Linked DNA regions of Homo sapiens. The protein of the gene in region 2 purifies or fractionates together with the protein of the main gene of each other region. This does not show direct contact. Each region holds a gene or a part of one and is shown on either strand. Other genes may lie near its edges.

Region 1 (4,068 bases), on a different chromosome or scaffold from region 2:
AAAAATAACAAGTATATACAGTTGGCTCTCCATATCCGTGGGTTCCACATCCATGAATTCAACCAACTGCAGATCAGAAATATTTGGGAAGAAAAACTACATCTGTATTAAACATGTACAAACTTTTTTCTTGCCATTATTCCCCAAACTATACAGTATTAACAACCATTTACACAGCATTTATATTACATAAGGCATTACACATAATCTCGAGATTAAAGCATACGAGGTTGTGCATTGGTTATATGCAAATACTGCATCATTTTGTATGAGGGACTTGAGCATTTTCGGATTTTGGGATCCGTGGGAAGTCCCAAAACCAAACCACCTCTGATACCAAGGGGATTGTACATATGTATGTATACAGCTACTAAAATTCAGAATCACAGACTTAACACGGGTATAAGGTATTTCAAAGATTTGGGTTTCACTTTTAGCCAGACGAACATGCAAACTCACCAGAAAAGCAAAATCACTTGTACAGTACTATTTTGGACTCTCAAGAATGATATCCCACAAAATGCCCTTGTCTAGTATTACCACCCTTTACAATAAGGAATTTATAACACGTCAAGCTATCAAAAGCAAATCTATACTGTTTTCAAGTCACTTCCTCTAGTGGGCACATTCCTCTCACAAAAATCTACACATATCGAAACACATATCTGACAAAAATCAGGACTTCCCTTAAACTTTCATCACCTGCACCGAACACTTTAACCTTGCGAGATAGTGTTGGCTTTTTCCCCTTGATCATTCTGACATTTCTCTATAATTTACATCTCTTTAAAATACAGTGACCAAAACTTGACATGCTAATCAAAAGAGAGAAAACAACTTCAAAGGATAGAGAAAGAACTCTCTCCTTGACCTTGGGCGCCCTATTCATTTATAAACACCTGAGTGTGACGTGGACTTTTTTCCTGACTCACATGCAGCTTGTGGTCATCCATGACTATGGCTTTCTTCCTTCCATTTTTGTTTATACCCAGCCTGTCCTTTGCCATCCTGTATTTACGTGGTTGAACTTATTCCCTCCACATACCACCCTGCACTTAATTCACTAAATTTCATGCAGTTTTCATAGATCTATTTAATCATAGTACTTTACAGAAATGCTTAAATGTGCAATTTATAACTGCCATTTGTGTTCAAAAATATTAGAATATGAAAGTACATAACACCAACATTATAATTTGCAATAAATAAATGGAACTAAGGATATCATTGTATTAATACCTACTGGAAACCTACCTCCACTGGACGATCGTTCTTTACCAATGCTATACGTGCCCTTTGCAAGGAACCATCCATTAGCTTGTGAAGTCTTAAAATTAACTTTCTTAACCCCATCTGCTTCAGTGCTTTGTCTACAAATGGTCTATAAATAGAAGTCAGACAATGTCTACTAAAGCCTGCTTCTGTGCTCCAGTCTGGTGCTCCCCAGCCAAGAGAATCATCCTCAGATTCGAGCCTCTCAAGCTTCTTGGATATGCAGTCCCGCGACTGGATGTCGAAGCTGTTATCTATGGGCTGTCTGATTTCCGGTACCCTAGGATCAGAGATTTGTTCTTCTTCACTCTCATCCGTACTACTTTCCAACTCCTTTAATTCTCCTTCTGTGTCATCACCCTCATACTCCGGCTCATTACCTTTGGATGGTCGAGGGGAAGGGATTTCAAACACTGGCCAGCCAATGTCTGATAAATTCTTGATGCCCAAAACAGTGCCCATAATCCTTAATTTCTGATTTAAGTCTTTTGTGATGTTTAACCACAAACAGAGTGCCTGCACCCTGTCCTGGAAGTCTTTTGCAGCATATTTTTCATAGTCCTTCTGAAGAGCCTGCAATGATGGATAAAGTGCTTCTATGTACTCTAGCAGCTCCATTATCCGTTTTACCTGCTCAAATGAGACCCTCTGGCGTTGGAGATGCTCATGATGTGTTGAGTAACCTACAATCTTTGTTCCAGGAGTGGCTTTGCACTGCCCTTCTACTGAAGTACCATTAAAACCAGCTCTATCTCTAACAAAGGCGAAGCTCCCATAGTCGACTTTGAAAGTAAGGATTTCATTAATAATATCTGGGATGGCTTGACGGGCTGTATATAAAAAGAAGTCCTGGTCGTTAATTGTCCGTCCTGCATGCCAGGCTTGTAGCTCTAACCAGATCAGTTCGTTAGATCGGTTAAGCCAGAAACCAGACGTATTTTCTTGTCCTCTTTGCTCCCTGTCTTTTTTCTTTGAGACTGAGGTAAGCTTTAGCAAAAGTCGTAAAGTTTCAAAAAACTTTAAACGATCTGCTGGACAGTCAGTCCTAGAAGTCTGGCGTGCAGGTCTGGCTATAGGCATGGGCACAGATACTGGAAGCTTAGCATTGCTACAGCCAAGGCTGAGGTAAGGCTTATTGAGATCCACATCTGGAATTGATTTTTTTGGCAAAGATCCACCCACTGAGTCTAACATGAATGAGCACTGTACATTTTTTTTACGATCACGCTCTGTTGTTCTAAGAGCTGCTCGGATCTTTTTCTCCTGCTTATAGCTGTATTCTTCCACATTCTCCACTGTTTTTCCAGTGTCTTTATGTGGAGGCTGATTTGGTGCATTCATTTTTTCTATTAAAAAAAAAAATAAACAGAACATTATATAACTCTAAAATATGAAGCTACTCTCAATATTTTCAATAAAACTGGTATTCACACATATTTATATTTTCAGACTGCTAATGGAAGAAAAAAAAGCATACCATATCCTAAAAATTAAAGGAATCAAAAAATATATATGACATTTTCTATATTTTAAAAAAAATTATCCATTTTTCCAGTATTTGCTGTATTCTCTTATATTCACAACTAATTACCTAAACTAGCTGTTTATTTCTCTCTATGCTACAAAGCATAGTTATCAAATCATTTAACCAAATTTCCGTAAGTAATCACCTTCAATTTAAGGAGGAAGAAACAGCATGGGAGATCTGACGGACACCTGGATGAGAAAATATATTTAATTCCTGCATTTGTCATTAGCTAAATGTGTAAACTTAAGAGGAAATCACGTAAATTATCTGGATTACTTTTCTCATTGATAAAATTAGGCACATTGATGCAAGAATACTTAAGGCACCCTAAGATTATTCTCATAAAAAACTGAAAGACAGTTGACAGACAAAAACACTGACGTTAGTTTATTCTATTCCTTTATTTCTCCTTTGCCACAAACAAGTGGGCAATAACATTTTAAATTTAAAATTAGCAAGACTGAAGACATATAGACTAATTTGGTATAATTTGCTTAGTATGTTATACTGCCATGTAAAATCATTTACAATTAATGCGAAAAAAGCAAAAACCACCCACTTCCTTCAAACATCTAGAAGAGGTTCTATAATCTGATTCCAAGCTTTAAAATGAACACACATACATCCTGTATGGCACTTTTAACACTATTAATTGCTCTACGTTACTGAAATCCTTTCATTCTGTTGCTTCTGGGTTCTTACACTTCCTTAAGTTAGTCCCTTCTTTTCAAATACCTCCTTGGAGCTTTGCTCACTACATAAAATGTTAATGTTTCTCCAAGTGCTAATCTTAGATCTCTTCTCCCTGGGTGATCTCATTCATTTCCACATCATATATCGATAATGCCCAAACCTATAACGCCATCTCAATCTACCCTCTACACTCAAGGCATAGTTTATTTCATTGAATCTAGGACACACATTTTTTCATACATTAACATCTCTGAAATTAGAACGTTATATATAATCAATGATGATATAAGTAAGTTTTAGGGACATATTTGCCAATATTTTTCATTTACATTTTTCTTTTTTTCTGAGACAGGCTGGAGTGCAGCCTCAACTTCCTGGGCTCGAGTGATCCTCCCGCCTCAGCCTCCCAAGTAGCTAGAACCACAGGCACGCATCACCACACCCAGCTAATTTTTTTTTTTGGGTAGAGACAGGATCCCACTATGTTTCCTAAGCTGGTCCCAAATTCCTGGGCTCAAACAATCCTCCCACCTCTGTCTCCCAAAGTGCTGAGATTACAGGCATGAGCCACTATG
Region 2 (4,068 bases):
TATCATGTTTTAAAGACAAGATCACCGTCTCCACAGGTTTTTTAAAAATTAAAAAAACTATATAGCTGTGTTAATCAAAGCGCTTATTTTGTACAATAATAATGACCTTGAATTTCTTAAAAAAAATTACAATAAGCTACAAGTATCAAAGAAGCGAAGTTATCTGGAGTAGTCTATATAGGAGCTCTTTGGACTTTCTTTTATTATGCTAAAATAGTGGTGCTTTTAGGATTTACATTATTGTACTCTCCAATACAAAGTATGGGGCATGTTAAAGTATACAGTACACCATTTTCATACATGTACAACATTGGTGGATGAAGAATGTCTCTTAGCAGTAATACTGGATGTAGCCTCTGGTTTTACCAGCTGCAAACTCTAGGACTATTATATAAGTAAAAATCTCTCTTGTGATACTGGAAAGTGATTAGAATGTGCAAACTGATATAGTAGCTTTCATCCGCCTCTTAAAGGGTACCACCACAGGAAAGTCCATTTAAGATGTTGGTAGGTTTAACAAAGTTGGAATGCTGGCACTGTTGAATTGGGCAACAGTTCTTCAGACCTGTCAAAAGGAAAAAAATTAATTAAAAACATGGGCTAGAAAAAGTAAAGACCCAAAAGCAAACAGTTAAGAAAACAGTCTTAAAAGTGTTAGAAATGAATATAATCTAGGCTCTTGTTCTAGGCATTACATTAGTGGCAACATACCACAATTCACGGCAGACCTTTTCATTCCAAAAAGATGAAGTCTATTCTGCTGCCCTCTTGAAAGTCAGTTAAATGAAAATCTTAGGAACAGAAAGGGAAAGTACCTTTGTGCAAATTTTTGTGCATTACCTTCCAAGGATTAAAAAGGAAAAAAATCACATTAAAATTGTTAGTCAAGTCAACCTTATTAGAATTAGGATTGAAAAGTCAGATAGCAATATTAACAAACTGGGTGATCCTGTGTTTACACAATCGTAATGTACTCCTAGAATTAGATCATAAGTATAGAATGCACATCTAACCAAGGTTTCTAGTATCAGATAATCAAGTTCTTCCTCACTCTTTCAATGAAAGTGGCTAAAAAGCTCGTTCAGAGCAGACAAATAGAATTTATTTCATGATGGTGTTTTACAGATTTACAATCACGTTATATAATTTCTAATTCCATATTTAAACATTCTATTAAGACTGATGTCAGAAAAAGGTGGTATTACACTAAAATCACATGTAATTAAAGATTTTAAAAAGTAAACTTAGAATTGTTAAATATGTACTTTGAATAGTTTTCTGCATACATGCCTCGGCTAAAAAAATGTTCCCTATTATATTTTTCTGGTGATCAGACTTGTTACAAGCTCCAGAAGAGTTGTTAATACATATGTGGCTGTTGAAATAATTTTCACAAATGCCTAGAACTTTAGGTCCTCATTCTGAGTCTGAATGAGGTTTGCAATCAAGTTTTCTAAATCCTGGCAGACTGTTGCAAATTAAAAAGGACAGATGGAAGTGTGTGAGCTCAAGCACATGTGTGCTGCTAAGAATGGGCATGTGGTCAGGAATTATAGGATATTAGAATGAGAGGATATACCACTAAACAGAAAGCCCTAGATGGAAGGCAGGAATAAAAACTCTGAAAAGATGCAGAATCAAAGTGCTATGGCAGCACTGAGTCAATTAACATAGGAAGAAATAAGAGTCAGGAATGTCAAAGGTTCTTAAGAATAAATTAACAGTTTAACAATAAACAGTTTAATGACAGCTGAAGAGGAAACCATTATCATTGGCAAACAGCAGCAGCTAATAGTTGAGTGTTAACTATGTGCCAGGTACCGATGCAAGATCTGTGCAGCAAACCCCATGGTACACCTTTACCTATGTAACAAACCTGCACATCCTGCACATGTATCCTGGAACTTAAAAGTTGAAGGAAAAAAAAAAAAGTGGCACATGATGAACATGTCAGGGGTGTGTGTGTGTGTGTGACTGGCACATGATGAACATGTCAGGGGTGTGTGTGTGTGTGTGTGTTTTAAATTAGGGACGGTTGGCTGGGAGCGGTGGCTCACGCGCACGCGCGCACGTGTGTGTGTGTGTGTGTGTGTGTGTGTGTGTGTGTGTGTGTGTGTGTTTTAAATTAGGGACGGGGTTGGCTGGGAGTGGTGGCTCACGCCTGTAATCTCAGCACTTTGGGAGGCCGAGGTGGGCAGATCACGAGGTCAAGAGATTGAGACCATCCTGGCCAACAATGGTGAAACACCATCTCTACTAAAAATACAAAAAAACTAGCCGGGCGTGGTGGCACGTGCCTGTAATCCCAGCTACTCGGGAGGCTGAGGCAGAAGCATTGCTTGAACCTGGGAGGCGGAGGTTGCAGGGAGCTGATATTGCGCCACTGCACTCCAGCCTGGGTGACAGAGTGAAACTCCATCTCAAAAAAAGAATACTTATGTGAAATACTTTACTCATGATGATAAGTAAATAATTAATAAGATAGCATACTAACTCATGGATATCTTATAAAAATAAACCATTTATTTTTCAGAACCAACAAAAAGAAGTCTATACTTGCTTTCATGACAGAGTGCCCTTAATAAGGTTGAGTGATTAAAAGTTAGAGGAAAGATAAGTGAACATACCTGGCTCAGAGCTACAATGCATTTAGTATATTAAAGCAGCTGACATGATGACTTTTTGCGAGCCTTCCCAGGCACTGGAGTTTTTCTGTTAATTTGCCGCACTAGGTCATAAAAGATCTGCAAATACAATAATTTGTTTTAATTTACAGGAGGAACACCTATCCCCCCCAATGAAAAAAGTAAATTGAAAAAACAGAAATTTCCATGGATATAAATTAATGCCCAGAATTGTTCAGCTAAGGAATGAGAATAAAATCAGGTGTTATAACTGCCAAGCTCAAATTTTTGGGGAGTGTTAATATTGTGCTCCTTAAAATACTTAGTTGAAGGAGCTGCAGAGATCTTAACTTAGTTCAATTAGAACATTTACCATCACACAAAGAAAAAATCCTTTTAAAAACTGTAAGTTTTTGCTCTACAACATGACTTGGAGCCTTTCAAGAACCATGCATACTTTTCGGAATTTTACTCTATTTTTCATATAACATCCTTCATATACCTGAAGTCTTAATCTGTCTTCCCTATCCATGTATTTTCTGTCCAGTCTTCCTTTTTCATGGTAAATATCAATGTACAAGTATTTAATAGAGACTGAAATAGTATTGTTTATTTACTACATAGATACATTTAACATGAGGGTTTTTTTTTTTTGCCTGTAACATCAACATATTACCCTGAGTACATATTAACTTGGGGTTAAGACATTTTCCATTCATCTTCAATGTTGTACTTCAAATGAAGACCCATTTTAAGTATATTTGACCATACCTCATTAACATTTATTTTTGATTTTGCAGAAGATTCTAAGAATGCACAGTTGTTCCATTGTCTTGCTAGATTTTGACCTTGTTCCTTCCCTACAACTCTTTCATCTTCCAAGTCACACTTATTACCAACAAGAATCATTGGAACCTAAAAATACATTTGTGAGAGTAAAAATAAATAAGTAAATATGCTATATGAATTCAAATCAAAAGAATTCTAAGAGTCAAATCTAAGAATTACTTTTCATATGCCACAAAAAATATTAAATAATGTATAATAAAATTTACAGCCTTAACAATTTAATCTGTAACATAAACATAAGTATTAACTTTGATGTCAATTATCTCCACTGCCTTCTCTTTTCATGGAGATGCAAACGATAACTCCAAAGGGAAGAAAAGAGAGAAAGAAAACTCTCATATGTTAAGTAAAATGAACACAACCTAGTCAATGTAGACATAAATAAGACACTTTTACATAAACTTTTGAGAAAACAAGCTATGATCCTGTTATGAGAGATGGGGGGAAAAAACCTTAAAATTTTATCATAATGGACGGAAGGCTCCCAAAATAGAATTTTTAGTTTCTCATAGTCTTGTATTAAAAAAGTCAATCAAGGCCAGGCACAGTGGCTCACGCCTGTAATCCCAGCACTTTGGGAGGCCGAGGCGGGTGG

The links.
Region 1: the proteins of RAP1B (region 2) and MAP3K4 purify together in Homo sapiens (affinity purification with mass spectrometry, with the first as the bait; one large-scale study listed by BioGRID). This does not show direct contact.

Annotation. Positions count from the first base shown.
Region 1 is NC_000006.12:161,047,166-161,051,233, reverse strand, and holds part of MAP3K4 (mitogen-activated protein kinase kinase kinase 4), read right to left. Parts: intron 2,619-4,068; coding exon 1,255-2,618; intron 1-1,254. UniProt on the Homo sapiens protein: Component of a protein kinase signal transduction cascade. Activates the CSBP2, P38 and JNK MAPK pathways, but not the ERK pathway. Specifically phosphorylates and activates MAP2K4 and MAP2K6.
Region 2 is NC_000012.12:68,655,777-68,659,844, reverse strand, and holds part of RAP1B (ras-related protein Rap-1b isoform 1 precursor), read right to left. Parts: intron 3,540-4,068; coding exon 3,396-3,539; intron 2,745-3,395; coding exon 2,658-2,744; 3' UTR 2,628-2,657; intron 566-2,627; 3' UTR 1-565. UniProt on the Homo sapiens protein: GTP-binding protein that possesses intrinsic GTPase activity. Contributes to the polarizing activity of KRIT1 and CDH5 in the establishment and maintenance of correct endothelial cell polarity and vascular lumen.